Homo sapiens: one gene and its partners. The protein of the gene in region 3 interacts with the protein of the main gene of each other region in a biochemical or structural test. Each region holds a gene or a part of one and is shown on either strand. Other genes may lie near its edges. The genes, in order: BCL3, IRF7, CHUK and BCL10.

The links.
Region 1: of the proteins of CHUK (region 3) and BCL3, one has a biochemical effect on the other in vitro, tested with the Homo sapiens proteins (one study listed by BioGRID).
Region 2: of the proteins of CHUK (region 3) and IRF7, one has a biochemical effect on the other in vitro, tested with the Homo sapiens proteins (one study listed by IntAct).
Region 4: the proteins of CHUK (region 3) and BCL10 form a complex in vitro, tested with the Homo sapiens proteins (2 studies listed by BioGRID, with this or other methods).

The regions. Positions count from the first base shown.
Region 1 is NC_000019.10:44,744,349-44,751,721, reverse strand, and holds the start of BCL3 (B-cell lymphoma 3 protein), read right to left. Parts: upstream 3,015-7,373; 5' UTR 2,932-3,014; coding exon 2,676-2,931; intron 496-2,675; coding exon 342-495; intron 1-341. UniProt on the Homo sapiens protein: Contributes to the regulation of transcriptional activation of NF-kappa-B target genes. In the cytoplasm, inhibits the nuclear translocation of the NF-kappa-B p50 subunit.
Region 2 is NC_000011.10:612,951-620,757, forward strand, and holds the start of IRF7 (interferon regulatory factor 7), read right to left. Parts: upstream 3,001-7,807; 5' UTR 2,963-3,000; intron 2,698-2,962; 5' UTR 2,415-2,697; coding exon 2,395-2,414; exon of another isoform or gene 2,369-2,394; coding exon of another isoform or gene 2,310-2,368; coding exon 2,147-2,309; intron 2,058-2,146; coding exon 1,847-2,057; intron 1,585-1,846; coding exon 1,526-1,584; intron 1,450-1,525; coding exon 1,224-1,449; intron 1,088-1,223; coding exon 1,001-1,087; intron 916-1,000; coding exon 835-915; intron 646-834; coding exon 256-645; intron 168-255; coding exon 49-167; intron 1-48. Other genes in the region: CDHR5 (cadherin-related family member 5 isoform 1 precursor), read right to left, coding at 4,401-4,820, 5,004-5,161, 5,649-6,230, 6,356-6,440, 6,524-6,637, 6,731-6,931, 7,117-7,214, 7,346-7,436.
Region 3 is NC_000010.11:100,212,577-100,219,597, forward strand, and holds part of CHUK (inhibitor of nuclear factor kappa-B kinase subunit alpha), read right to left. Parts: intron 6,784-7,021; coding exon 6,694-6,783; intron 6,557-6,693; coding exon 6,432-6,556; intron 6,250-6,431; coding exon 6,142-6,249; intron 5,555-6,141; coding exon 5,419-5,554; intron 1-5,418.
Region 4 is NC_000001.11:85,266,612-85,273,632, forward strand, and holds part of BCL10 (B-cell lymphoma/leukemia 10), read right to left. Parts: intron 4,296-7,021; coding exon 4,007-4,295; intron 1,372-4,006; coding exon 1,016-1,371; 3' UTR 1-1,015. UniProt on the Homo sapiens protein: Plays a key role in both adaptive and innate immune signaling by bridging CARD domain-containing proteins to immune activation.

The DNA of each region.
Region 1 (7,373 bases), on a different chromosome or scaffold from region 3:
GCTGTGGCATGAGACTCACTTGAACTTGGGGGGCAGAGGTTGCAGTGAGCTGAGATCGTGCCACTGCACTCCAGCCTGGGCGACAGAGTGAGACCCTGTCTCAAAAAAACAAAAACAAAAACCAAACAAAAATAGTGGCCTAGGAGGTAAATGCTCTCAAGGTGCCCATTCTTCAGAGGAGGAAACTGAGGCTCAGAGCAGGGAAGGGCCTTACTCAAGGTCACACAGCCTGTGGTGGAGACCGAGTTCTGACTCAGGTCCACTGGGAGCTGAGTGGCCCTGTGTTATGGACGGCTGGTCTTCCCAACCACCCCTCCCCTTAATAGGGGACTGTCACTCACGTGTCTCCGTCCTCATCTGCACGGGTGGCCATGGCGATGTCAGCAGAAAGGGGGTGTTCCATGGGGCACATCATGGGGTATAGGGGTGTAGGCAGGTTCACCAGAGGAAACGGGGAGCCCATGGCCCGAGTGGGGTACAAAGGCAGTAAGGCTCCTGGACAATGGAGGACAGAGAAGGGACATGGGTGAGGCCACACCCACAGACCCTCAACCCGCCCCCCACTTCTAAAACTTTGCTCCTGTGGTGTCACCTGCCCTTTCTCCTGGGTCCCTTTTGCATCCCATACAGGGTCCTCAGGGCCTAAAACAAACCCCCTTCCACGTCCCTCCTCTGGGCTCTGGCAGCTTCCTCTCCCTCTAGGGCTGGTCACCCTCATTGTCACTTATCTTCTGACCTCAATCTCCAATCAGACAAAGGGTCCCTTAAGAACAGAGGGTGCACCCATCATCACCTAGCAGGGGACCCCAGGGACTGTCTGCAGAGTGATTTTGTGGCTGATGAATTGCTGGGTGCAGGGTGTGGGATAAATGTAGAGTGGGTTTGGGGAGAGTGGAGGCAGAGAGGAGGTGTTACCAGAAGCCTGTTCAAATTGTTTTTGAGATGTAGTCTCGCTCTGTTGCCCAGACTGGAGTGCAGTGGCACGATCTTGCCCCACTGCAACCTCTGCCTCCCAGGTTCAAGCGATTCTCCTGCCTCAACCTCCCAGGTAGCTGGGATTACAGATGCTGACCACCACGCATGGGTAATTTTAGATCAAACTGTTTAAAAAGGGGCCACGGCAGGCCGGGCGCTGTGGCTCATGCCTCTAATACCAATACTTTGGGAGGCCGAGGCGGGCGGATCACCTGAGGTCAGGAGTTCAATACCAGTCTGGGCAACATGGTGAAACCCTGTCTCTACTAAAAATACAAAAATTAGCCAGGTGTGGTGGTGCATGCCTGTAATCCCAGCTACTCGGGAGGCTGAGGCACAAGAATCCCCTGAACTTGGGAGGCGGAGGTTGCAGTGAGCCGAGATCACGCCAATGCACTCCAGCCTGGGCGACAGAGCAAAACAAAACTCTGTCTCAAAAAACAAAAACAAAAACAAACAAAGGCGAGGGGACCATGGCAGCAGGCAAATCCATACCAACCCATCACACAGACGGGGAAAACTGAGGCCTGCTTTCTCACTCTTGGAATAGGAAAGCTGGGAGGCCGTGGCAGAACTCCTGATGCACATAGCTTGAGGCTCTCCAGCTGTCACGCTGATGGGGTGGAGGGTGCAGAAACTACCTAAAGTTTTGGGGCTCTGTAGAACGGCTCTCTGCAGCTTTGGGGGTCAATTGGGGATGGTGACGTGGCCACAGCTGTGGTAGAGGACACCCCTTCTTGAGATCAGGGATGGAGATAGGATGGAGAGAAGAGTGTGTGGTCTTCGTCATCTGCTGATCCTTGTGGGCCCTCTGTTCTTGAACTCCCAAGTTTCCAGGTCCTCGTATCTCCAATACCAGGCCTTGAGGCCTTGAGGCTTTCTGTCTGGAGACCCCTGAAATTTTCATCCTGCCTCTAAATTACCCAAAGTCTCAGAATTACCCAATCTTAGGATCCTCAGTCCCCTGATCCCTTCTGCCCACCTGATCTTGACCTCAAATAGGACCCTGATCACTTGTGGCCCCACATAACTGAGTACCCAGAAACCCGGGTCTCTGTTCTCCTGGGTCCTCAAGACCCCCTGGTATCTGGGTCCCTGGAGCTCTGGTTCATTTCCTTGGATCCTTGTGATCCCAGATATTGGGGTGCTCAGAACCCCATCTCTGTTTTCATAATGCCCATGTCTCCAGATATCTTGGTTCCTGAGATTGTGACATCCTGAGATCCTCAGTATCTGTCTCCTTAGAACCCCAGTCTCTGTTACCCTGACTCCCTTTGATTCTAATAATATCAGGATACAGGGAACCCCAGTTTCTCCAGCCCAGCTCAGCTTCCTCATAACGCTACACATCTGGCTTAAGAGCTTGTACTTTCTTGCCCCTAGGATACCAGGCTCTGTGCCCTGATTCCCTGACACCCCCATATTTGTACCACTGGGCATTGTCCCTGGCCCCCCCCCCCCCACGTCACTCAGCCCCTGGGCTTTGCCCCCCAGGGTCCCCAAATCCCCAGATCCCAAGGCACAGCTTACTGGCTCCCCGATGATCTCATATCTATATCCTTGGAACCTGGGCTTATATCCTCTTGTCCCCCAGGTCCCTGGAGAGACACCGGTTTGTGCCTCAAGCTCTGCCTCCTGGCTCTGGTGACCCTATGCTCTGTGTGGATCCCACCCGGCCCGGACCCTCGGGGGCCACTCACCGGGGTAGTAAAGCGCCTCCGGCCGGGCCAGGCCGTGGGGGGGCCCGGGGACCGCCGGCAGGTCGCAGCCGCCGCGCAGAGGGTCCAGGGGGACGACAAGGCCCGCAGCGCCGCGGGGAGCGGCGGGCTCCGGGGAGGGCGCGCGCAGCGGGCGCTTGCGGAGCGGCAGCGCGGCGCCCGGGAGTCCGGCGGCCTTGGGCCGGGTGCGCAGGTCCACGGGCCCCTCGTCCATGGCCCCCGCGGGGCATCGGGGCATGGGGCCGCCGGGGACGGCGGCCGGAGAGCGGCTGGGCTCGGCTGCACGGGAGGGTGGTTTCGCCGGGCGCCGGGACTTCCCCTGCAGCCGGCTGAACTGAAGGGACTTTTGTCGGCCGGGGCGGTGCCGGCCGCCCGCCTCCCCGCCCCCGGCCCCCCCGGGGCCACCCGTACGCCCCAGGGGTTTCCTGGACCCGCCGCTGCTCCCGCCGCTCTGAGGTGCAGCCTGCCCTGCGCCCCGCCCGCGCCGCGCCCCGCTTGCCCCCTCCCGGCCCGCGGCGCCTGGGGCAGCCAGGCCTCGGCGGGGGAGGGAGAGGAAAGGAGGGGTGGGGGGAGAGGAGGCGGGGTCGGGGGGTGGGGGGGTGTCCCCACCCCTGCTGCCAAGGGCCGCTCTCTCTGCCTCTGTTTTTGTCTTTCTGGCCCTATCTCTCAACATCTCTATCTCTGAGTCTGTAACTGTCTCTCTGGTTCTCCTGTCTGAGTAGGTGTTTCTCTCCGCAACCCCGCGTTTGTCTCTGTGTGCTCTGTTCCGTCTCTGTCTCTCTCTTTTGTCTCTTTGTGTCTGTCACCATCTCTCTGCCTCTCAGTTGCTGTCTGCTTCTCTGTCTCTCAGGAGGCCTTGGCATCTCTGGGACGGGGTTTGGAATCTCGGTTCCCACTTACTCGCTGGGTGACCTTGGCCAAACACTTCCCCTCTCTGAGCCGTTTCCTCCTTAGTGGGAGTGAAGAGACGCACCCGGGGCAGGGACTGGCACTCGGCAGGCGGCCAGGAACGATTCCTCTCCCTCCCCTCTTCCATCTCTGCCACTCCACGTGCCTCATCAGCTGTGGGTCTAAAGGGGCTGGGGGTGGGGTGAGGGTGGGGAGCGCTCCACTGATTGTGTCTCTGCACTCGTTGGGGGCCCTGCCCCCAGCCGGGGCCCGCGGGGCACCGGGGTGGGTGCTCGGAAAATCCTAGGTGCACAGAGAGAAAGAGACATGGAGACAGGCGCAGAGATCTTGAGAGAAAGAGAGATAGCAAGAGACACGGACACCAGGCCAGAGTCAGCGCGACCGAGGCCGGTGCTGCAGGAGCGGGGAGCAGTTTGGCTTCCCCCCGACTTCCCCTCCCACCTCGAGGAGGGGTTGATGGGTGGGGAACAGGCTAGGCGGGTTGGGGGCATGACTCAGGCTGGAGATGGGAGGGAGGGAGGAGGGAGGCGGGACTCTTCCCCGTCTCCTCCCCTCCTCTCCCTCTCCCCGCCCCGGGGTGGGGCCCCGAAGGTCCGGGGCTTTCCCGGATTTCCCTGGGGGCGGGGCAGCCGCTGGGGTTGAGTCCGGGTCACTGAGTCACAGGAGGCGGAGAGGGAGGCTTTGGGGACACAGGGGGCGGGGCATGGGGGCTGCACCCCGGACTTGCCCAGGGGGCACGCGGCGTCTCTCTGGTTCTCTCCCCCGGTCTCCTTCTGTCTTCGAAACTTGCCTGACCTCCCTCTGGTTGTCTCCTGCCCCGCCCTCTGTCTCTGTCTCCCCATCTCTGTTGCTGTCTCTGTGTCCCCTGGGACCTTGAAAGTGGGTATTGGGGCCCCGGGAAGGGACTTTGGCCGGACTCGGGCCCCACCCGAGTGGATCGTTAACCCAGGATGTGAGAAGTGGCTGTGTGGAGAGGCCTCACCCCTTCCCTTCCTTTCGACCTCTCTCTGGATCTCCCTTATCCCCCTTCATGGCGAAACATCCCGAGCACAGACCTGTGTTAATTCCACCTCCACCCCTTGCTCCCGGTGGGACCTCAGACAAGCCATCCCCTGCCTTGAGACTCAGTTTGTTCTTCTGGAAAATGGGACCAATGGCAACCCCTGCCTGCTGGTGTTGTGGGGGCCACAGCAAGGGAAGAGGGGAGGAATTCGGTTGGACAGGCTGGGGGCTGTGTTCCCTGCCCATCCAACCCCACCCCTGGGGACCCTCAGACACAGGAGAGGGGTGTGGAGCACTATCCCAATGCACAGAAAGGAAAGCTGAGGTTTGGAGGGGCGAGGCTTAGGGTGGGGACCCTCAGAGGTAGGGTGGGAAGGACACCCAAGCCTGTCCCACTCCTGGCATCCCAGGGCAGCTGGTGCAGTGGTTCCAACCTAGCAGGACTGTAGAGGGGAGAAGATGTGATGGGTCCGGTGGGAGCTTCGAAGGGCTGGGAGAGACGGTGCTGCTGGAAGAGAGGGTGCTGATGGTTCTCTGAGGTTGGAAGAGGGATAAAAGGGTCAGAAGGAGGAGGATCTGAAGAAGGAAGATAGGTCTGAGAGAGAAGTAGATGGTTTAGTGGGAGGAGGGGGAGAGGATCTGAAGGAGGAGGACAGGGTCTGTTGGAGGAGGTAAGGGTCTGATGGAGGAAATAAGGGTCTGAGGGTGGAGGCGAGGTTTGGAGGGAGGAGGTGAAGGTCTGAGGGAGGAGACAAGGGTCTGAAGGAGGAGATAAGAGTCTGAGGAAGGAGGCGAGGGTTTGAGAGAGGAGGTGAGGGTCTGAAGGAGGAGGTGAGGGTCTGAAGGTGGAGGTGAGGTTCGGGGGGAGGAGATGAGGGGCTAAGGGAGGAGGTGAGGGTCTGAGAGAGGAGACGAGGGTCTGAAGGAGGTGGGGGTCTGAGGGAGGAGGTGAGAGTCTGAAGGAGGAGATAAGCATGTGAGGAAGGAGGTGAGGGTTTGAGAGAGGAGGTGAGGGTCTAAAGGAGGAGGTAAGGGTCTGAAGGTGGAGGTGAGGTTTGGAGGGAGGAGGTGAGGGTCTGAGAGGAGGTGAGGCTCTGAAGGAGGAGGTGGGGGTCTGAGGGAGGAGGTGAGGGTCTGAAGGAGGAGATAAGCATCTGAGGAAGGAGGTGAGGGTTTGAGAGAATAGGTGAGGGTTTGAAGGAGGAGGTAAGGGTCTGAGGGAGGAGGTGAGGGTCTGAAGGAGGAAGTGAGGGTCTGAGTGAGGAGGTGAGGGTCTGAGGGGAGGGGAGAGTATCTGAGGGAGAGGGCACAGTCTGAGGAAGTCTGAGAAGCACTAAGTGAGGGGACGCAGCTCTGAGGGAGGAGGAGAGAGTTGGAGGGGAAAGAAGGGTCTGAGGAAAGAAGATTTGGAGAGAGTCTGAGGGTAGAGGCCAGATCTGAGGGAGAAGAAAGAGGCTCAGGGGAAAAGATCTGAGGGTCCGAGGGTGGAAGGCATGGACTAGGGGAGGAGGAGCTGGTGGGGTGGAGGGGTGGAGAGGCGTGCCTCCGGAGCCAGCAGGGACCAAGGGGAGGGAAGGGAAGGGAGGCTGGGAGGCAGCCCCGCCCTGCAGCTGTCTCTAATTTCCCAGAATCTTCTGCTCTCAGGAAAGTCCCAGCTCCCACAGCAGCCTCCCTCCAATGTCGGGAACGGAGGATGCGGAACCAGGATGGCCACCCCCACCCTCCCCCGGCTCCTTGCACCCCAGGCGGAAAGGACTAGGGTCTCCTTTCTCTGGGCCTTGGCCTCTGGAGGGCCCCCACCCGCAGGGGCAGCCCCTGGATGAGTCTTAGAAACTTCCCAGAGGAGGCCAGGAAGTTCTGCTTGGTGTCTAACCACTTTCCCCTCATGCAGGCCGCCCTTTGTACCTGTTCAGATCTCCTCCCCAGCTGCTGTTTCTTTTTCCCCAACCCATCCTGGGGGAGGAAAGGCCAGGAATTTACCTGCTCAAAGTCCTGAGAGGGAAACGAAATTCCATCTGGAAGTCTGTAGGCTTGAGGCAGCTTTCTTGCTCTCAGGGGCCTCAATTTCCCTTTCTAAGAGGAGAGAGTAGGGCTGGTCAGGGCCTAAGTTCCCATCTGGCTCAATTACTGGGTCTTGTCCTGCTTTTTTTTTGAGACAAGATCTGGCTCTGTCTCCCAGGCTGAAGTGCAGTGGTGAGATCATAGCTCACTGTAGCCTTGAACTCCTGGACTCAAATGATCCTCCTGCCTCAACCTCCCAAGTAGGTGGGACTACAGGCATGTGCCGCAATGACTGGCTAATAAAAAAAACAATTTGTAGACTCAGGGGGTCTCACTGTGTTGCCCAGGGTGTTCTCGAACTCCTGGGCTCAAGCGAACCTCCCTCCTCGGTCTCCCAAAGTGCTGGGATTACAGGCGTGAGCCACCGCATCTGGCTTCCTTGTCCTACTTTGTTTTGAATTGAGGCCTGGGTCCAAGTCCTGTCTCCTGATCGTTAGCTTTGTGACTTCCGGGCAGTTACTTAACCTCGTGGAGCCTCAGCTTCCTCATCTGTAGAGTGGATCACATCAAGAAAATATGACTCTGTCCCATGGGGTCTGATGTATAGAAGGCTCTTGATGCAATTTAGCTGCTATTAGTTTTATAATAATAATAATAATAATAATAATAATAATAATAATATAACATTATATATTATTATTGTCCTCATCAAATATCCTGTGTTTTCAATAGCAGGACCTGCTTCATTGGGGAAAATAGAATTCAACA
Region 2 (7,807 bases), on a different chromosome or scaffold from region 3:
CAGTGGGCCTGAGCACATGGCCTCCCCTCCTTGAGGCTCTGGTCTCACCTTCACCAGGACCAGGCTCTTCTCCTTGGGCCTCCCAGCTGACAGGTCCTGCCCGAAGCCCAGGTAGATGGTATAGCGTGGGGAGCCACGGCGCTGCCGTGCCCGGAATTCCACCAGCTCTGAAGAAGGGGACTCTGCTGAGTACCTGGCAGGCAGGTGCTCCCAAGGACCCCTGGAGACAGCCCCCCAGGCAAGGGCCTCACTGACCTTGGAAGAAGACTCTGAAGTCGAAGATGGGGGTGTCACAGTTCCGAGGCAGCAGGCAGGCTGGGGTGGAGGGGCTGGCGGAGCCTGGGGGTCCGCCCACCTCCCAGTACACCTTGCACTTGCCCATGCGCCGGGCCCACAGCTGTGGCCCCCGAAGCTCCAGGTGCAACCCAGGGGCCACGTGCCGCAGCAGTTCCTCCGTGTAGCGCAGCTGCTTCTGGTCCGGGAGCTCGGCAGGGCTGGGGAATGCTACCTGCTGGGGGTCTGTGGCCCGGACAGCTGGGTCTGGGGGGCCGTATAGGAACGTGCAGCTCGGGTGTCCCACCACCTTCTGCAGCACCGTGCGGCCCTTGTACATGATGGTCACGTCCAGCGCCCCTGGGCTGGGCTCTGTGTGGAGACCAAGCTGTGAGTGACGGGGGTGGGCGGGGACAGGCTGTGAGTGACGGGGGTGGGCGGGGACAGGATGTGAGTGACGGGGGTGGGCGGGGACAGGATGTGAGTGATGGGTGGGCGGGGACAAGCCGTGAGTGACGGGGGTGGGCGGGGACAGGCTGCCCCTTCCTGGGATGCACTCACCTTGCACCGCGGTGCAGGCGCTTGGGGAGGGTGACAGGTACGGCTCTGCCTGGTGCGGGGACTCTGGGGCCGCGGCCTCGCCTGCATCCGGAAGGGAATCCTGTGCTGGCACCTCATCCCTAGCCTCTCCCTGTGCCCCAGGCCTCCCAACCCCTACCCCTCTCACCTGTCGTTAGTGCCGCGGGCTGGGGCCCGGGGCTGGGGGTCGTCTCTACTGCCCACCCGTACAGCTCCCCAGCAGGGAGCCCTGGGCCTGAGGAGGGGAGGACAGTGGGAACGGTGGTCCCCTCCTAATTCTCCAGCTCCCCAATCCCCAGCCCCCTTCTAAAGTGTCCGTCCAGGTGCACTGGCCCCTCCCGCGCTCCCCCCCTCCCCGGGCACGCCCACACCTCCAGCACAGGCCCCAGTCAGGGGAAGCCCTTCTTGTCCCTCTCCAGGAGCCTTGGTTGGGACTGGATCTGCCCCCCATGACGCTGTCAGCAGATGGTCTGCCAGGCAGCTCTGTTGCACTGCCTGGAGCAGGAGGTCCCCCTTGTCACCAGCTGGGGCAGGGAGGGGGCCTGGGGCTTGGAGTCCAGCATGTGTGTGTGCCAGGAATGGCCCTGGGGGCCCACCCTGCAGGGAAAAGTCAGGGTGAACGTAAGCAGCTCCGCGGCCTGGCAGGAGGAGAGGCAGGCAGAGAGAAGGGTACCTGTGGTGGTGGGACAGCTGCGGGGGCCTCTGCCTCAGTCTGGTCCGTGCCTGGGCCTTCTGAGAGAGAATGGGGCAGGCGTTAGGCCCCGACACCAGAGTGAGAGATACAAGGAGAGCCTGGTGTAGCCCCCACCAGCTTCCTGGCTGTGAACCCTTAGGCTGTGGCCTGAGGAGGTGGGGATGTGGCTCTCCACCTGTCCTGGGCCTGCTGGCAGCCTCTCCCAGAACAGCTTCTAAAACCACAAATCTGACCCAGAGAATGTTCCCCTTTGCCCAAGCAGGACGAATGCCAACGCCCTTGGCAGCCGGCGTCGCTCACCTCGCCAGCACAGCTCCCGGCTGAGCGCGTACACCTTGTGCGGGTCGGCCGGGTCCCCCGAGTTATCCCGCAGCATCACGAAGCGACGCGTGCTGCGCAGTGCGCAGCGGAAGTTGGTTTTCCAGCCGGCGCGCTCCGCAGTCTCAGCCTCGGGGGGCGGGCCACCTCCCCTGCTGCTAGGCGGCCACCTGCCGCGGGCCACAGCCCAGGCCTGAAGAGGGGGACAGAACACGTGTGCCGGGCCCGCGGGGTCCTAGGCGGGCTCTCCCACCCGGGGCGGGGCGGGGCTGGGGTCCCCACCTTGAAGATGCGCGCGTCGGCCTCGCTCAGGTCCTTGCGCGCGAAGTGCTTCCAGGGCACGCGGAAACAGGTGCGGGCCTCGTCCAGCCACTGCAGCCCCTCATAGCAGCCGCTGCTGATCTCTCCAAGGAGCCACTCTCCGAACAGCACGCGTGGGGCTGCCCTGCGGGTGCCCGGCCGCGGAGAGTCAGGGCCGGCTGCAGGGCGCTCGGGGACTGGCATCTGGAGAGGGTGGGCCGGGCTCTTACCTCTCAGGAGCCAAGGCCATTGCTCCTTCTGCAGGGGCAGTTAGGTGGCGGTCAGGTGTTATAACAGGGGAGGTAAGGGCTCCTGTCGCAGCAGACGCCAGGCCGCGGCCACAGGTCGTGTGGCCAGGTGTCACAGGTGTCCACAGGTGTGGACTGAGGGCTTGTAGCCACCGACGCTGCCTCGGTATGGATCTCTTGGCAGAGGGGGCTACAGGTGTGACTGCAGGTGTGGCCGGCGCGCACACATGAAGTCACAGGTGTTGAACCAGTGTCCAGGCCTGGCGGGAAGGCGCAGGCCGGACCCTGCGGAGACGGGAAAGGCGACGTCAGGGGCGGGTCAGGCTCCCGGGAAAGCGAAACCTAAACAGTGGCGCTTCGCACCCTCCTCGATCCCACCCCGTCCGGTTCTCAGCTCCGCGGAACCCCGCCTCCGCCTCCGCCTCCCTCCCCGCCCGACCCTCATCTCTCAGGCTCCCCCAGCTCTTGGCTCTACCCCTCCGGGGTCACGGAGCCCCCACGGAGGCTCTCGCTCCCGGCCTGCACCGCGTGGGTCTGGGGTCCCCAGTACCTGGGTGCCAGAGCCGCCGGGACGGGAAGTTTCGTCTCGCGGGGAAGCGGAGGGCCGGCGCTTTTATGGTGGCCAGGCGGGAGTTTCCGGGAAGGGCGCGCGCCGCCTGTTCTTATTATTGGATGCGACCAGCGGAACCCCGCCCCGGCCAGCGCGGAGTAGGGAGGAGTGGAGGGCGTTGGGAGTGGCTGCAGTGAGCCGAGATGGAGCCACTCCACTACAGCCCAGGGGACAGAGCAAGACTCAGTCTCAAAAAAAAAAGGAAGTGGGTAATGGGAGGTGGACGTGCCTCGAAAAAGGGGCAGCTGCACCGTTTGCGTTTCTTTTTTTGAGATGGAGTTTCGCTTTTGTTACCCAGGCTGGAGTGCGGTGGCACAATCTTGGCCCACCACAACCTCCGCCTCCCGGGTTCAAGTGATTCTCCTACCTAAGCCTCCCGAGTAGCTGGGATTACAGGCATGAACCACCACGCCCGGCTAATTTTGTATTTTTAGTAGAGACGGGGTTTCTCTATGTTGGTCAGGCTGGTGTCGAACTCCCGACCTCAGGTGATCTGCCCACCTCGGCCTCCCAAAGTGCTGGGATTTAGGCGAGAGCCGCCGTGCGCAGCCCCCTTTGGGTTTTTTACATTGTTCAGTCAAGAATATCAGATACTCTCACAATTAAAACATTTGGAAAGGAATTAATGGTGTATTTCCATTAGGGAAAGTGCTGACAAGCCGCAAGGGATCCCTTGATGGTTCTGGGCATGGGCGCCCAGCCTGGGCTCTGGCTTTGGGAGCAGCGAGGGGAATGTGTCTCTCACCCCTAGGCCTCCTGGTCTGGCTCCTGCTCAGGCCACACGGCGCACCCACCCCCAGCGCGCCTCAGTCCAGGTCACTGGGCAGGGTGTTTACTGCTGCGCTCCAACCCAAGCATGTAGATTTCAGAAGGGGACTAGGACCCCCGGCAGGTGTTTGAGACCACCGGCTCCCAAGTGCGTCGCCTTGGGGGTTTGCATCGGCTCCTCAGCCTCCCCAGGCAATCTCTGTGTAGGGTCGGGAGCGGGAGGTCTGAGATGAGCCGGGTGCCTGAGATCTCCGGTGCAGGTCGGGGGAGGGGAGCCCCCCTCGGGCTGTGGTTAGAGCGGGAGAGGAACTTCCCAGACTAGCTGGCACAGAGCCTCGGGAAGGCGGCGGGCACTGCAGGTGGTTTACGGGAAGTGCTGCAGCCTTGGGGTGGGGACAGCGTGGCCAGACCCACCGCCTCATCTGCACACCTGGGCTCAAGCGCTAATGACGACAGGGGACTGAGTGAATGGGACCCCCATGGACCCGCGCGCCTGCCCCACGCCATGGCCTGGGTTTCGGGAGCCTTGCTTTATTCTGCCTCGGGTCGGAGGCTGGGGGAGCGAGACCTCCAGTGCCCGTGCGGCTGGGGGAGAGGGTGGAGGGGCCACTTAGATGTAGGAGTCATCACCACCGGGCGCATCGTAGGGACCCCCACCCCTCCCCGCGCCCTCGCCCTCATCGCCGCTGCCGGAGTCACTGGCGCCATCCACGTCCAGGGTGGGCGCGTTGAGAACGACCACGTCTGCCTCCGTCCCGATGTCCTCGCCAAACCAGACAGCCTTGTACCCGCCCTCCGGCCGCCGCTCCTTGGTCAGGATGGACCTCACCGCCGTGGGGCTTCCGCCAGCTCGGGCCGCTGCGGGGGGCTCAGGGGCACCGCCTGGGGAGGCAGGGCCGGGGGGTGCGGGCTCTGCGGGCATCGGTGCCTCCGCGGGCTTGGGGTCGTGCGTGGGGCTGGGGACGGGCGCCCAGTTGGCCTTGTGGTCAGGGAGGAACGCCTGGTTGTCAAAGCCTTGGGGCTGGGGCTCCTGCAGGCGGGAGTCGAGGCGTCAGCGGGGTCCCTGGGTCTCTGCAGCCTTGGCCCTGCACACCCTCATTCCACGCTGGACACCCCTCCGTCTCCACATCTGTCCCTCTGCCCTCCCCTCTCCTGTCCCCCGTCCCCCACTTCCTGCCTGGTCGCCTGCCCTGTTCTCCATCCTGGGCCTCACCGGAGCTTTGCCACAGCAGCACTTGAGCCGGGGGCCATAGTGCTTGTGGACAAGGACGGCGAGGCCAAGGAGAGCCAGCAGCAGCAGCGCACCCAGCACCCCGCCCAGGGCCGCCATATCCACCACCGAGAAGCGCTTGTCCTCCGAGGGGCCGCCACCTGGCATCGCAGTGGAAAACGTCATCATCCCCGCACTGTTGAGTGCCCCAGGCATTTCCCATGCCAACCTGTGCCAGGCTTGGGACACTTGGGTTCCACCCAGGCCTGGGCTGTCTCCCAAATCTCAGGCTCTGCTGACCCTGGCTCAAGGGGCCTGTGTGTCCCATCGAGACCCTGCCCACCCCCTCCCCCCCGGGAGGCCAAGCTGCTCACAGGAGCTCACAAGAGGTGCAGGGACTTGCAGGGTGAGCGGCAGCCGTGGGAATCGTGGGATTCGCTGGACCCCACATCTGGCCTCTGTCCTACACACATCACAGGTTACCTCACTGGGGGCCTTGGGCCTGTCTGTGTCTGTCAGTCCCAAACAGACTCCTCTTTGGGATTTCATGGTCAGGCCAGGTCAGCCTGGGGTGGACCCTTCCTACAGCGTTTCCCATACCAGCCAATGACCGGAGTCAGGGAGGGAAGGCAACAGAGTGGGTGCTACCTGAAGATGGGGTGCTCTTGCTGAGGGGCATCGGCTGAGAGGTTCCTGGCTCTGGGGTCTGTGCTGTGCCCCCACCGGGTGTGGTTGGTTGGTGGGAGGTGCTGGTTCCCATACCGGGGGGCATCGGCTGAGAGGTTCCTGCCTCTGGGGTCTGTGCTGTGCCCCCACCGGGTGTGGCTGGTTGGTGGGAGGTGCTGGTTCCCATACTGGGGGGCATCGGCTGAGAGGTTCCTGGCTCTGGGGTCTGTGCTGTGCCCCCACTGGGTGTGGCTGGTTGGTGGGAGGTGCTGGTTCCCACACCGGGGGGCATCGGCTGAGAGGTTCCTGGCTTTGGGGTCTGTGCTGTGTCCCCACCGGGAGTGGCTGGTTGGTGGGAGGTGCTGTTTTCTGCACCCGGGGGCCCCCCGGGTGTGGACGAGGTTGGTGGCCTCAGAGTTGTGCCAGAGGGTGGATGAGGGCCTGTGCCTCCCCCAGAGCTGGTCGTGGAGGGTCCCTGGGAGGGCTCAGGGGGTCTGGGGACCTCGGAAGTGGTGCTGGTCCAGGGCCCAGTTGTTCCTCCAGCCTCTGGGGATGGGGGGACATCTGGGGGCCGGGAACAGTGCTTGGGCTTGCCTCTGCCCGCCCCTTGCACACCTACCGCGGGAAAGGAGCCACCGAAGGGGCTTATTTGGAGAACCCTGGGGGCTCACCTGTGGAGGGGGGCTTACCTGTGGAGGGGGGCTCCTGTTCGGAAACTTGTATCTCAATGACTGTGGTTGCGGTGCCAGAGGTCACCGTGTTGTGGGCCTCAACCTGGGGCAGGAAGGGGCTTGTCCCTCCTAGACACATCTTTAAGCCCCACACCCTTGGAGATGCCCGCCTGCCCTGCCCCGCACCTCTGCGTAGAAGGCTCCCGCCTGTGCCAGTGTGGTGGTGGTCAGCACAACCTCTCCCTCCATCCGGAAGTGTGAGTGGTTGGTAATTCGATATGTGATGGCCGAGTTGAGGTCCTGGACAGGGTCTCATTGAGTCCCCGGCCAGGCTGCCTCCCACGTACAGCCCTGACCCACCCACAGAGGGGAGGCCTTGGATGCACTCTCTACCGAGAACTCCGGGTCCTGAGCCTGGATCCTCAGAGGCTGAGAAGGGGCAGCTGCATCCTTGACCACAACGCCCGCTCCAGCGCCACGCGCCACGGTGCCACGATACAGTCTCTGGGGGAAGCGGGGCGGGCTCCCGGCCGCAGCCACAGCCTCCACGGTGACCTGGGTCACTGAGTAGCGGGCAAGGTCGGCCTGTTGGCCCTGGAGGCGGGGGAGGCAGCAGTGACTAGTGGGGTTGAAGGTGGAGCTGGCGCTGAAGGCTGGGGCTCAGGAAAGGCAGGTGCAGACTTGGCGGGGGCCCTGCCCCGGCCCCCCAGCCCTGACCCCCCGCCCTACCTTCCACCCTTCCCCCTCTGCCCTGCCCCCCATGCAGGTGCCCACCTCACCTTCACCAGCAGAAGGAAGGTCATGGGGCTGGGGACACTCCTGGCCACGGTGAGGTTGCCCGAGTCTGGGTGGATGATGAATGTACCATTCACGTTTCCTGGGAGGATGATGGAAGTGCTCAGCCCCGGCCCCCTGAGGCCCAGGGACCCAGCCAGCTCTGCCCAAGGTGGGGATGGAGACAGGGACAGAGGGGGTACAGGGCATTGTTGAGGGCTGGGCCCCACTCACCCCTAAAGATGCTGTAGATGATGGGCTGGTTGATGCCGCGGTCTCCGTCCTCAGCGTAGATGGGTCCGGGACGCAGGACGAGGGGAGATGGCTTCAGGGATGGCGGAAGGGAGGGCACGTCGTGGGGCTGGGGTGGATGGCCCCAGCCTGGCCCCTCTGACTCCCCATCAAGGGCAGGGTTGGCTGAGGAGGGGCCCAGTCCCGCTGGTGGCCGGGCGTCCCTGCCTGCCTAGGACAGTCCCTTGTCCCAGCATCACAATCAGTAACACCCCTGTGGGTCCCTTACTAATGAATGAGTCCAGTGGCCCAAAGATACTGAGTCCCATTTGCACAAGGCTTGTCTTGACGGGTAAGCAAACATTTAGGAAGTGGGGGCTCCCGGGGTCTGCATTTCTGCCTCCCATGTACTGTTTGGTGGCCCCAGGTGCCTTGGTGCCAGGAAGGTTTGCAGACAGCCTGTGT
Region 3 (7,021 bases):
CCCAATCCATGGGTTGGGTTGCTTTTTCGTTTTGTTGATTATTTTTTCTACTGTACACTTTTTAGTTTGAAGGCCCACTATTATTTCCACTTACAAATCCTAACACAGATGCCCAAATAAGTGGTGCTACAGAAATACTAAACTGAGGCTGGGCGTGGTGGCTCACGCCTGTAATCCCAGCACTTTGGGATTACAAGACAAGTAGATCACTTAAGGTCAGGAGTTCAAGACCAGCCTGGCCAACATGGTGAAACCTTGTCTCTACTAAAAACACAAAAATTAGCTGGGCTTGGTGGCACAACGCCTATAATCCCAGCTACTCAGAAGGCTGAGGCAGGAGAATCGCCTGAACCTGGGAGATCAAGGCTGCAGTGAGCCAAGATCGCGCCACTGCACTCCAGGCGACAGAGTGAGACTTTGTCTCAAAAAAAAAAAAAAAGAAAGAAGAAAAAGAAAAAAAAAGAAAAAAGAAAGGGATACTGAATATTCCCAACACAGAGAAATTATGTTTTAGCTGATGGATATGCTAATTACCCTAATCTGATCACTACACAGTGCATGTATTGAAACATCACTATTTACCCCATTAATTTGTATAATTATTTGTCAATTTAAAAAATTAGGCTGGGCGCGGTGGCTCACACCTGTAATCCCAGCCCTTTGGGAGGCCAAGACAGGTAGATCACTTGAGGACAGGAGTTTGAGAACATCCTGGCCAACATGGCAAAACCCTGTCTCTACTAAAAACACACAAAAAATTAGTTGGCCATGATGGCGCACACCTGTAATTCCAACTACGCGGGAGGCTGAGGCACGAGAGAATCACTTGAGTCTGGGAGGTGAAAGTTGCAGTGAGTGGAGATTGCACCATGGTACTCTAGCCTGGGTGATAGAACAAGACTCTTATCTCAAAAAAAAAAAAAAAAATTAAAAGCGTATTAACAATTTTGTTTGTTTGTTTTTGAGACAGAGTCTCTCTCTGTCACCCAGGCTGGAGTGCAGTGGTGCGATCTTGGTTCAATGCAGCCTCCACCTCCCAGGTTCAAGCAACTCTTCTGCCTCAGCCTCCCGTGTAGCTGGGACTACAGGCATGCACCACCATCCCTGGCTAATTTTTGTATTCTTAGTAGAGATGGGGTTTCACCATGTTGGCCAGGCTGGTCTCGAACTCCAGACCTCAAGTGATCTGCCTGCCTCCACCTCCCAAAGTGCTGGGATTACAGGCATGAGCCACCACACCTGTATCAACAAAATTTTAAAAAAGAAATACCAAACTGTTTTTATAACCTGAAGCTGATCCTTTTCATGTGAATTCCAAATGTCATAACACAATTGCCAGTATTTCTCTTATTAAGAGACTTTTCTTTAATATAAATCTTTATGTTTAAAAGGGGAGTAGGGAAATCTTCAAAACTGATACGGATTTGCAATACAATTATACTACCTGAGACTTTCCATGCCTTCCCAATTTAGGCAGATTTCACACTATGACAGCTGCCACTTATAGCAATAGAAAATCCTATAATGGACATCTACTTTTACACAGGATATTAGAGTATGTCATCATGGCATCTCACTACCAAAGCTCCAGGCCAGAAGGAAGCAAAAGAAAGAAGAGGAAATACAACCTAAATTTATCTTTTTGCTCACTATAATATTTAATGAGTACCTACTATTGGTAGGTACATACTATTGGTACATACTATTAAGTGTGTTGTGGTGGTAGTAGTGGGTATACAAACTGAGTACCTTATGATCCTTGCCTTCCATACAGTTATAGTCAAACAGAAGATATTAAGATATACTAAGAGAACTAAGGTACCAGGCAAAATGTGATAGGTGTTATAATCAGTGTAAAGTATCATACACTTGGCAGTAGGAAGCAGGCACTTCATAAAGGAGGCACTACTTGAGCTAAACTTTGAAATGAAAGACTGAAATGGGAAAAGACTGAAAAGAGTTCCTTTAGGCAGAAAACAAGGTGAGCAGAAGCAGAAAAGTAGAAAGGGATGGGCATAATCAGAGAATACAATTAATCCAGTTCAAATGTACCTAAAATGATGGCCTCTCAGGGCATTAGTAAGAGATAAGTCCAGGAGTGTAAGTTGATATGAAACCAAGATAGGTTTTGAGTACCAATGAAAGGGTCTGGACTTTATTCAATAAGTGAAAGAAAACTATGCAAGCCTTTCTAAATTGAGAACCTGGCAAGCTCAAAATTGTTAAGATATTCAAAAGATAAATTTGATAAAATAATTGGATATATCGATTGAAGAGAAAGGAAGAGTCAACACATCCAAAGTTTCCCACCTGGGTAACTGGAAAGGTGACAGTGCAAATAAGAAGTGTAGGAAATCTATAGAGGTAGATTTAATGGGCCAGGTGCAGTGGCTCATGCCTGTAATCCCAGCACTTTGGAAGGCCGAGGTGAGCAGATCACCTGAGGTCAGGGTGTCAAGACCAGCCTGGCCAACATGGTGAAACCCCATTTCTACCAAAAATATAAAAATTAGCTGGACACGGTGGCAGGCACCTGTAATCCCAGCTACTCGGGAGGCTGAGGCACGAGAATCACTTGAACCCAGGAGGTGTAGGTTGCAGTGAGTTGAGATCGTGAGACAGAGTGAGGCTCCATATCAAAAAAAAAAAAAAAAAAAAAAGAAGTAGATTTAATGGATAGAACAAATATGTTCAGTTTTTAATAAATTAAGTTGTAAGTGCCAGTGGAACAGCCAGGTAGTTATACAGTTATACAGCAGTTATAAGTCCTTGGCAGAAGAGTCACAGCTACAGAGATAAATAACTTTAGGAGTTAGCCATATGTAGTTTATAAGTAAAGCTATACAGTTGAAGAGGCTGCCTAATAAAAGAAAGGAAATGTAATGGAAAAAGAGAGAACCAAGAAGAGACTCAGAATATAGTTACATTTAGGGGCGTGAAAGAGGAGGCAAAAAAAAATAATAATTAAATGCTACTGTTTCATCATTATTTTTAGTGGTAGGTTCAGTACACTTCTTTCAACTCTTCTACATATCTAAAGATGTTCATAATAAACAGTTGGAAAATATGCATACAATCAGACTTGCTAAGCTATTTTTTCAAAAGGGAAATATTTCAGTAACTGTTTTGTTGCTTCCTTTTTTAAGTGAAAATCAAACAGACATCATTCCTTTCTTGTACAATATATATAAACATTTTGGGAAAATGTCCTACAGTAACACCAAGCTGTTTTGCAGTTCATGCTTCTGTACTTTTGCTCATGATGCTCTGCTGCCTATAAATCTCTCCCGCCCTCACCCTTTCCCTAAAAACTCTCATTCTTCAAAATTCAGTCCTATTATCATGTCTAACAAGCATCCTTGAAGCTTCTTGAACTACTATAACTAGTACCTTATACATACCTTATTCTGCATAACCTCATAATAATATTGATGCTTTGAGGAAGATATTACTGTCCTTGAGATAGAGAGACATTTGCTCAGGTTCACAGATAGGTAAATAGTGGTGCTGCAAACTGAATTAAAGTCTGTAAACTATAAACTCCATAATGTGGACTCTTTCCCCGTGCCCTATAACAAGAGGCTCACAGATGCCCTTCAGAGCAGAAACTATGCTATGATTCCTATGACAAGTATGAAACAAATGCGAGATGTGGTTCATTCACAGCTGAAATGTTTCAGAGGCAACACAGAACTAAAGCCCTGCTTTCCTAACACACTGAGGGATAATTTATTCTTTGGCACATTAGAAGGAAACCAAATCAAGAAGAAGCCAGGTATCTTTTCAGTGTTAGCCAAGAATGACATCCACATGGCCTCAAGTTTCTATTTAATAAAGTATGCCAAGGTCGGGCACAGTAGCCCACATCTGTAATCTCAGCACTTTGGGAAGTCGAGGTAGGAGGATTACTTGAGGCCAGGAGTTCAAAACCAACCTGCTCAACACAGTGAGACCCCATTTCTACCAAAAATTTAAAAATTAGGCAGGAGAGGTGGCGCACACCTGTAGTCCCATTTACTCTGGAGGCTGAAGCAGGAGAATCACTTGAGCTCAGGGGTTGCAGACTAAAGTGAGCTATCTCGCCATGTACTCCAACATTACATGATTATAATTTCTCATTTCAATTTTAGAAACCTGTATACTACAAACAATCAATACAAATGTAAAGACTATTGATGAGAGTTGTTTCTGGGTACACTGCATAATAGAACTATCTATAGCTCTCATTCATATCAATAAATAATTTACTAAGAACCTGATACATGCCCTGCTCTGTACAGAATGCCATGGTTAGGAAGGGTAGGGTGGGTGATTGTTAATAAAAGAAGTAAAACAATCCCAACATTGAAGAAGACAACAGTCTATATGAAGATGCATGAATGGAAGACGAGAAAGAGAATATAGCCTTTAAATGACAAATTTTGTGGCAGAGACCATTTAAAGAAAAGCTCTTAAAGATATGCCAGTGTAGGTGAGAAGATACACAGAAATGGATATCCAGGCAGAAGGATAGCATCTGTCAAAGCACAAAGGTAGATAACGGGTTTGAGGCATAAGGAGCAGTGACAAGCTGGTCTTGTATGAGGTAAAGGTTAAGAGAAGCAGGTACAAGGCAAAACTTGGTTAGGGAAAGCCCCCCCAAAAAACCAAGCAGATCAGTTTACACTTGACTTGTTAAAAAAAAAAAAAAAAAGAACTATGTTAGTTTCTTGGGCAGAAGAATAAAAAAGCATTTTCAGAAGATGAGATAGGTAGTACATATTGAATGAACTATAGGTTAAGGAGTAAGTGCAGAGCCATGAAAGGCAGATAGGAACCTTCCTTACCAAATCAAATCCAGTATGACTAGACATAAATGAATCGAGGATAATGGCAACAACATGGGAAAAGGTAAATAAAAAAGTTGCTTCAAAGGAGTAATTAACAAAGACCACAGAGAAGCAAACTGAGACAGCTTGCTAAATAAACTTTTTAAAAAATCAGCTCTAAGAATATAATTTTCTTTTTCAAATAAGCATCAGGGCTGGACGCAATGGCTCACGCCTGTAATCCCACTTTGGGAGGTGGAGGCGGGCAGATCACCTGAGGTCAGGAGTGCGAGACCAGCCTGGACAACATAGCGAAACCCTACCTCTACTAAAAATACAAAAATTAGCTGGGCATGGTGGTGCACACCTTTAGTCCCAACTACTCGGGAGGCTGAGGCAAGAGAATCGCTTGAACCTGGGAGGCGCAGGTTGCAGTGAGCCAAAAACATGCCACTGCACTCCAGCCTAGGTGACAGAGTGAGACCCTGTCTCAAAATAAATAAATAAATAAGCAACAGGAAAAGATTATTAAACTGTATTTATGCTAATTTTCCAAATAAACTTGTTACTTTCAATGCTGGTCTTATGCAGTAGACCCATTAAGACTAACCTTCAAATTCAAAATGTGATCCATTAATACAAAACATCTTGGCTGCTTCAAAGTAAGGTCAACAGGTCCTCCTCTCTGCTGAGGGTCCCAATTCAACATCAACTGTAGCCAGTTTTCCATGGGTTCTACTACTAAACTAGAAAACATACAAAATAGGGTGAAAATCAAATCATTATGTTCCAATTTCCCTTTATACTGTTAGAAAGGTAATTTTGCAGGTTGTCCATTTTCTTTCCCACATCACTTGTCTGTACCATTTCATAAATTACTTTCAAATTCATGAAATGACAGGGGACAAACTTTTTTCCATCAAAAACTACTCAAAACTCCACATATGTTAGTTACTGACAACTCTGACGGATGAGTCCAAATCCATTCTGCAAATAACCCATTTACTTCATTATCCTAAGAGCCTTCTTAGGACATATGTCAAACAGTTAAATGGCAGTTCTTGTTTCCACCAGACCTGTGCTGTCCAAAATGGTAGCCACTAGTCCCAAGTGGCTATTTATATTTACTATTTATTCAAAATTCGTTCTCTAGCCAAACTAGCTACATGTCAAGTAGTCAATAACCTCATGTGGCCAACAGAAATATAGAAGGTTTCTACATCATCACAGAAAGTTCTACTGGATAATGCAACTTGAAACAGACAACTACTCTCCTGCTCCTTTACAACTCTGGAGAAACTGAGGCAAACTTCCTTAACTAAAATATACTTACCTACAAAGGCTATTTGGTTGAGGTAAATGGCTACTAAACCGAACTTCTCCTGACATCTCTTCACATGCAAATATACACTTTGGATCCTTCTTCTTAATCTTCTCATGCCTATAAAATCAAAAGCTACCTCAGTTGACAAAGTGATTCTCACAAATTAAGATTTCTTGCCATTTAATTATATTTAATTGTATATTTCAAAGGCAATTAAACAATTAAAGAAAGAAAAAAAAAGACAAATGAAAAAATTTCCATTCCCATTAAGCATGCCCAAGTTCTCATCCATTTCTTACCAGGTAAATGGCTGCAGATGATGCAAAAAAGGCCTATATCCAGCAATACATTCAAATACCATGGTCCCAAAGCTCCAATAATCAACAGTGGCTGTGTAAGGCTTATTCTCAAAGAGCTCTGGGGCCTTCAAAAGAGAAAATGCTTTAAACACCAACACTGTATGGGAAAAGCTACTTTATTTTTGACCTACTATATTCATGATCTTCAGAAATAAGAGAATCCTATACACACTTAAATTCAAAGAAACAAAACAGGTCTCACCAGATACTGCAGTGTTCCCACAAAAGATGTACACAGACTTCCTTGATCAACATCTTTGGCATATCCCAGATCAATTATTTTATGTATTATCTGCAAAATAATAAGACAGATTAAGTATTAAATGGTAGAGAAATTTAAAAAGGAAAGACAACAATATCCTTACGAGGCTGTAGACAGGGTAGTGGTGAGGACCTTGGGCTCTGTAATAACACAAAAATATTTCAAGTCTGAGTGCCACCACTTAACTAGGCATGTGATCTACCAAGTTATTTAACCTCTCTCAGTAATCTAATTGGATGACTAACAGTCCCTGCTTCACAGAATTGTT
Region 4 (7,021 bases), on a different chromosome or scaffold from region 3:
CTGTAATCCCAGCACTTTGGGAGGCCACGCTGGGTAGGTTGCTTGAGTCCAGGAGTTCAAGACCAGCCTGGCCAACATGGCAAAACACCGTCTCTACAAAAATAATACAAAAATTAGTGAGGCATGGTGGCACACACTTGTAGTCTCAGCTATATTACTTGAGAGGCTGAGGTGAGAGGATCACGTAAGCATGGGAGGCAGAAGTTGCAGTGAGCCTAGAATGCGCCACTGCACTCCAGCCTGGGCGATAGAGCAAGACTGTCTCAAAAAAAAAAAAAAAAAAAAAAGAAAAAAGGAAAAAATACCTCATCAAATTACATGTAATAACTGAGGTTTAGGCCAAGATATTTTTCTTTAGGAATGAAAATGATTAAGCCAAGAATGTGAAAATCCTAACAAAGTAGTATAATTAGTAAGGTTAATTAGAAATGAATTTTGGCAAACCGAGATCTTAGGTGGCTCACACTCCATCAAGTGTTCCTCCAGTATCAAAAAGAGGCTGTTTACATGCCTATACGACAATGGAGTGGAAAAGAGATTTTTATTTTTCTATATTGGCAGTTTTCCCATCAGTGACCGGTTTTATTACTGAACAGGAACAGCTTAATGCTGAAAATTTGCTGCTGAATGACTGGCAAAGACTATTAGACTCTTGAAAATTTCTAGCACAAATGCACTGAGGAAAAAACGTTCTTCCTAGTAAGGGTCTATTCTCAAATAGAGATATATTCCCTATTAAAATCAGTCTTAAAATAGAAAATATTTAAAAAAGTACTGAAAGACCTTAAAAAGGAAAAAAAGAAATTACTAAAAAGTACATGATCAACATGATTTACAGTTAGCTATCCTAGAAGTATGCTTTTTTAATTCTAAAAATCCTATTTACAAAGTATGCTTACATTGCATTTTAAAAGACATGCATCAAATGTAAACAAATGATTACAGCCATTTTATAAAAAGTCATATTCTTTAAAACATTTTTTGTCATCATTAAAAATTAAAAGGCAATAAAGTGTCATTGTCGTGAAACAGTACGTGATCTTAAGGGAAGAAACATCTCACTAGAGTTTGCACAAGTTCCTTCTTCTTCTAACTGTAGATCTGGTGGCAAAGGAGGAGCCCCTGGGTCCCCAGGTCTGGGAAGTGTAGTTGAAGAGAAGATGGTATTTTCAGTTCTGCCTACTTCTAGAACAGGCAAATTCAGAGAAGAATTAGTAGAAAAAAAGGGCGTCGTGCTGGATTCTCCTTCTGGATGGTACATGACAGTGGATGCCCTCAGTTTTTCAGAGAAATTACTCTCATCTGAATTTGATCTGGAGAGGTTGTTCGTGGCTCCATCTGGAAAAGGTTCACAACTGCTACATTTTAGTCCTACAATAAAATTATTCAGATGTAAATGAAAAAGTAACTAAAAAAATGGAGTCACTGTCCATCTTGTGACTTGTTAAAGATTACAAGCTAGTTACCCCACAATCAAAATTTAAATAGCAACTTGTAATTTCCGTCATAATCTATTTCAAATCTAATTTGCTTTTCTCAACAACCATGAAGTATACTATTATTTGCATTTTCTATATAACAAAATAGTCTCGTGGAAGTTAAACGACATGCTGTAATTCTCATTTAAGGTACAGCGTACATATAAACTTAACCACCTAAAATTTTTTATAAAATAAGAAATAGCTTTCACAATAAATATTCTTTAGTATTCTGGTACAAAAAATATTAGCTAATAAAAAAATGTAAACGGCAGATGCTAAAATTCTATCTGTTGATCAATGACAATGGCTAATTCTTGAATAATAGGATATTAGAACTAAAAGGAATTTTAGAGGTCACCTAGGATAGTCTCTTATTATTAAAGACGAGAAAAAAGGGCGGGGCATGGTGGCTCACGCCTGTAATCCCAGCACTTTGGGAGGCCGAAGTGGGCAGATCATGAGGTCAGGAGTTTGAGATCAGCCTGGCCAACATGGCGAAACCCCATCTCTACTAAAAATACAGAAATTAGCCAGGCGTGGTGGCAGGTGCCTGCAATCGCAGCTACTCAGGAGGCTGAAGTAGGAGAATCGCTTGAACCTGGGAGGCAGAGGTTGCAGTGAGCTGAGATCATGCCATTGCACTCCAGCCTGGGTGACAAGAGCAAGACTCCGTCTCAAAAAAAAAAAAAAAAAAAGAGAAAAAAAAGGCACAGGACAGTTAAGTCATGTCCAACATTCCAGGACTACTTTGTGGGAAAGTGAGAACTACAATTCAATAGATAATGTCCTGTTTCTCAACCTCACAGTTTACTCAAATGACAGTGGTTGTTCCCATTAGCTGTGGTACGAATGTATCCGCCAAAAGTTCACATGTTGGAAACTTGGTTGCCACTGCAGCAGTGTTAGGAGCTGAGGCCTTTGGGAGGCAACAGGGTCATGAGGGCTCTGCCCTGGACTAATGCCATTATCACGGGAATGGGTTAGTTATTTTGGGAGTTCGACTCCTTTTTCTTCTCTTTCACACTCTTGCCCTCCCTTGCTCTTCCATCTTCTGCCCTTCCACCATGCATGACCCTTGCCAGATGCTGGCGCCATGGTCTTGGACTTAACCAGCCTCCAGAACTGTAAGAAATGAATACATTTCTTTTCTTTAAAAGTTACCCAGTCTCAGGTATTGCTACAGCAGAAAACAACTTAGATACCATCAAAGAATTTTATGATATCCAAAGGGTATAGTTAACCATTATCCAGAGGATTGAAAGAATAAACACAAACACAATTTACCCTTCTGTTAGGCTTAGCAAATATTCAACCTACAGGCACAGAAACCCTGAGTTGACAATTTTTAGGCAAAACCTGCATAGTCTATAAAGGGCACTTACATGTCACTTCTTCCACTAGTTTTTCAACCTCACAGTACAGTCAGCATGTCTATTCCATGCTATACAAACTACTTTCTTAGATATGGCTCAAAAGGGAAAACTTGTAATGTGTCCCAGCAAGGGGACACTTATAGACTATGAGTTCCTTAAGGGCAGAGCCCTAAATTATTCTTTTCTGTATCCCTAATGCCTAGAAGAGCTGTAGAACATCACATGCACATTTATGTGCTCTGGAGAGAGACAGTGAGGAACAGAGGCAGGAGGGGGTTGGGGATTTAAATTGTGTAGGCAATTCCACACAATATTCCAATCAGTGAGTGTATATTCTGGAGTGAGAGTGAAATGGGACAGGTGAATCTGCTATTCTCTTAATCTGTTTCCATGCTTTCACATCTTGCCAGACTAGTTTAAAGTCATGAATATTTTATGCAACGTGATTCCTATAAACATATGCCAATTACTTCATCTTGTGATCAACTGGTGATCATAAGAAAAACTAGCAGAGTTGGACTTTTACAATACTTTGCCTAAATACTGTTCTTTATGTGTGATGTACAGTATTTTCAGAGCTTACTCTTGAATAGATTAACTTTACATTCTACTGACTTTAGAAACAAATCCTTATGTATGCAGGGATTTCATAATAGTTTTCTATAAATGGTATTAAATGAATACAAATACAGGATATTGAGAGATATTCCACTTTTTCAATGTAATAGTGTCAAATAAGGTAAAATAAGTGCAAATTGAATATAATTTTGAAGTTTAAACTTTTTGAAAGCAAAATGATCATTTCTGTTTTTGTTTTGCTTTTCTGAGACAGGGTCTTGCTCTGTTGCCCAGACTGGAGTGCAGTAGCACAATCATGGCTCACTATAGCCTCAATGTCCCAGGCTTAAGTGATCCTCCCACCTCAGCCTCCTGAGTAGCTGGAAACACAGGTATGCACCATCATGCCTGGCTAATTTTTTAATTTTTTGTAGAGACAAAGTCTCGCTATGTTGCCCAGGCTGGTCTCAAAACTCCTGACCTCAAGCAATCCTCCTGCCTTGGCCTCCTAAAGTGCAGGCACCTGGCCTGCTCTGCATTTTTTAAAAGCATTATTACATTTAAATTAGCTCTTAGATAATTAAGATATCTTACCTTTCAGATGTTCTAGTTTTATATTTCTAAGTTTCAGCACTTCATCTGTAATCTTCTGTATCAGGAAGTTCTGTGTTTTTTCTCGCCGAATAGATTCAACAAGGGTGTCCAGACCTTTTGGGTTTTCCTGTAAGTAGTCTAACAATTTTCCAGCCCTTTTTCTACTTGATGTTCGACAAGAAATTTCTTCAGTGTCTTCTCTACTGAGTATTTTTTTTGCACGTAGATGATCAAAATGTCTCTCAGCTATGATTTTCTCACACAGGTATACACGTAAATTTTCTAAGGCCTAAAAGACATAAAATATGGTTCAATGTTATTTTTAACATCTAAGAAAATCACATACGTGACTATTAGTTGGCAGTCTTAGCTGGTGTGAGACAATGTTCTAAAGTCAGGAGGCTCAGGCCTTCTAAAATGCATGCTAATTAAGATGAAAGTCCAAGTAGACACAAGTAGGTCCTAGACATTCCTCACTGCTTTGATCTCACCTTCAAACCTAAAAACCAAGACCAGGCTGTTGTGAAGAGGGACCAGCTGAATCTAGAGGGCCTGGGTCCTTGGAAACAGGGAGGTCTGTTGAGGGCCATCTTCGGGAGTAAAGATGAGGGCAAACACTACTGTACATTTTAGCTATCAGTTGGCAAGGAATGCAGAATTAGTCAGGACCAATAACTTAGTGAGAGGTCTCACAGTCTGTAACTTTCTCATGTTTGTTATTAATTACTCCATTTCCTTAAACTGTTAAAGACAAAAAACAAAACCCTAAACTGAAAGAGCCCATAATGTATCTGTCTTTGGGGTCAGCTGGAAAGACTACACTCTAACTCAGTGAATCAGTCTTGGTGGAAGGGAGATGGAAAGATGTGTGGGGAATAGGGAGTGTTCGAAAAATGAAAGAAATAAAGAAAAAGGACACCACAAAAAAGCAAACCTAGATTTGAGAAGTGCCTAAGAGCTTAATTAGTAGAAAATCCATGTTGATCTCAATAAATGGCATTAATAATTTGGTACCGGTGACTGTATTTTAGCTCCTCTATTTACTAGATATATGATCTTGGGCAAGTAATTAACTCCTCTGTGCTTGTTTCCTCAGCTGACTGTTATATGAGGAATAAAGATATGCAAAGTGCTTAGAAAAGCGCTTGGTACATAGTAAGTGATCAATATATGTTAGTAATAATGACAAAGGTAATGGCAGGAAAGTAGGCTAGGTGAAGGGTTCCTGTGGTTCTTGGTCTACGAAGTTCCACATTTACTTGTTTATTCACATGACAAGTATTTTACAAATCTAAATTCCTAATATGCCGAGTGCTGAGCACTGAGTATACAAAGATGAACAAGATTTGAATCCTACATGCAAAGGGCTCATGGTCTAGCTGGGAATACATATCACAGGTAATAATTATAAAACAATGTGATCGGGCCCAGAAAAAAAAGATTATAGGTCAAATACAGGAAAAGCACAGAGTGAGCAAATAACTATGTCCAGGACCTGGTCCTTATCATATCTGGCATGGACTATTAACAATAGAAACCTAGCTGCACTTACTACTTCCTTCCCCCTCCTCAACATTTCTCCTTCAGGAGAAAATGGAAATCTGGAGTATTATATGAATTTTACTAAATTTTTTTTAAGGATCTCACTCTGTCACCTAGGCTGGAGTGCAGTGGCTTGATCATAGCTCACTGCAGCCTGGAATCCCTAGACTCAAGTGATCCCCATCTTAGCCTCTTGAGTAGCTAGGACTACAGGTGTGAGCCACCATGCCCGGCTAATTTTTAATTTTTTTTTTTTTTTTTTGTAGAGAAGGGATCTTTGCTACATTACCTAGGCTGGTCTTGAACTCCTGGCCTTAAGTGATCCTCCCACCTTATCCTCCTGAGTTGTTGGGATTATAGGTGTGGGCCACTGTGCCCAGCAAATTCTAATATTGAAATTTTGTTAATTTAGAAAAAAAATTAAAAACAATGTTCTGCCCTGTCTTAAAGGATAAAGTTCCTTTACGTGGCAGAAGAGTAGAAAAGTTAAGGGCATGGCTCTAAAGTTGGATCAACCTCAGTGCAAATCTTGAATCTAGTACTCACCCTTGTGAGAGCTGGGCCAAGTTACTTCACCACTCCAAGCTCCAGGTATGTTATTGATAAAATAAGGATTAAAAACTTAACTCACAGGACATCAAGGAGGACTAAATGGGAATACTATATATGAAGGCCACGCATAGTCTCTGTACACAGTAAGTACTCAATAATAACTAATTATGGAAGACAAGGTTCATTGATAATATGGCTCCTACCTACCTCTCCAGCTTAATCTATCACTACCTTTGTCCTGAAAATTTATGCTCTACCTAAAACTATCTGTCTCTCTACATTTCCTTACGTATTTTTTGTCTGCTTTTATCAGACCCTAAAGCCCCTATTCGTCCTTTAAGATTTAGGTCAGTGGTCATCTTCTTTGGAAAGGTTTACCTAACTCCCCAGAATGAGTTAGGCACCCCGTCCTCTGTCCTTGTAGCACCTTGTGTATACACTTCATCTTTCTATACACCAGGACTCCACTTCTTTCACCTCATTTCCCAATTCATTCCCAGACATTTCCATCCTGCCCCAGTATTCTTCTCGAAGTCACCAATGACCCCCTTATTGCCAAATATTTTCAGTCTTCATTTCATTTTTCAGCTGCATAAACACAGTTGACTACTCCCTCCCTGAAACAAGAAAATTGTTACATGAATACCACACTCTCCTGGTTTTCTTCCCATCCCTGTGGATACAACTTTTCAATCATTTTCTTGTTGTTGTTGTTACCCTACTTTCAAGCTAACAATTCACTTTTTAAAATTCTTCTCTTTAAAGGGTTTTACACCATTTTTCTCTTCTAGCTCACAGCTTTCTAGGTAAAATCATTCAATTCCACACTTACATTTCTAGCTCAGATCTCTCTTCTGATCTTTGACTTTGCAGATGTAATTGCTGATCTGACATTTCCATGTACTAATCTAATTACATCCT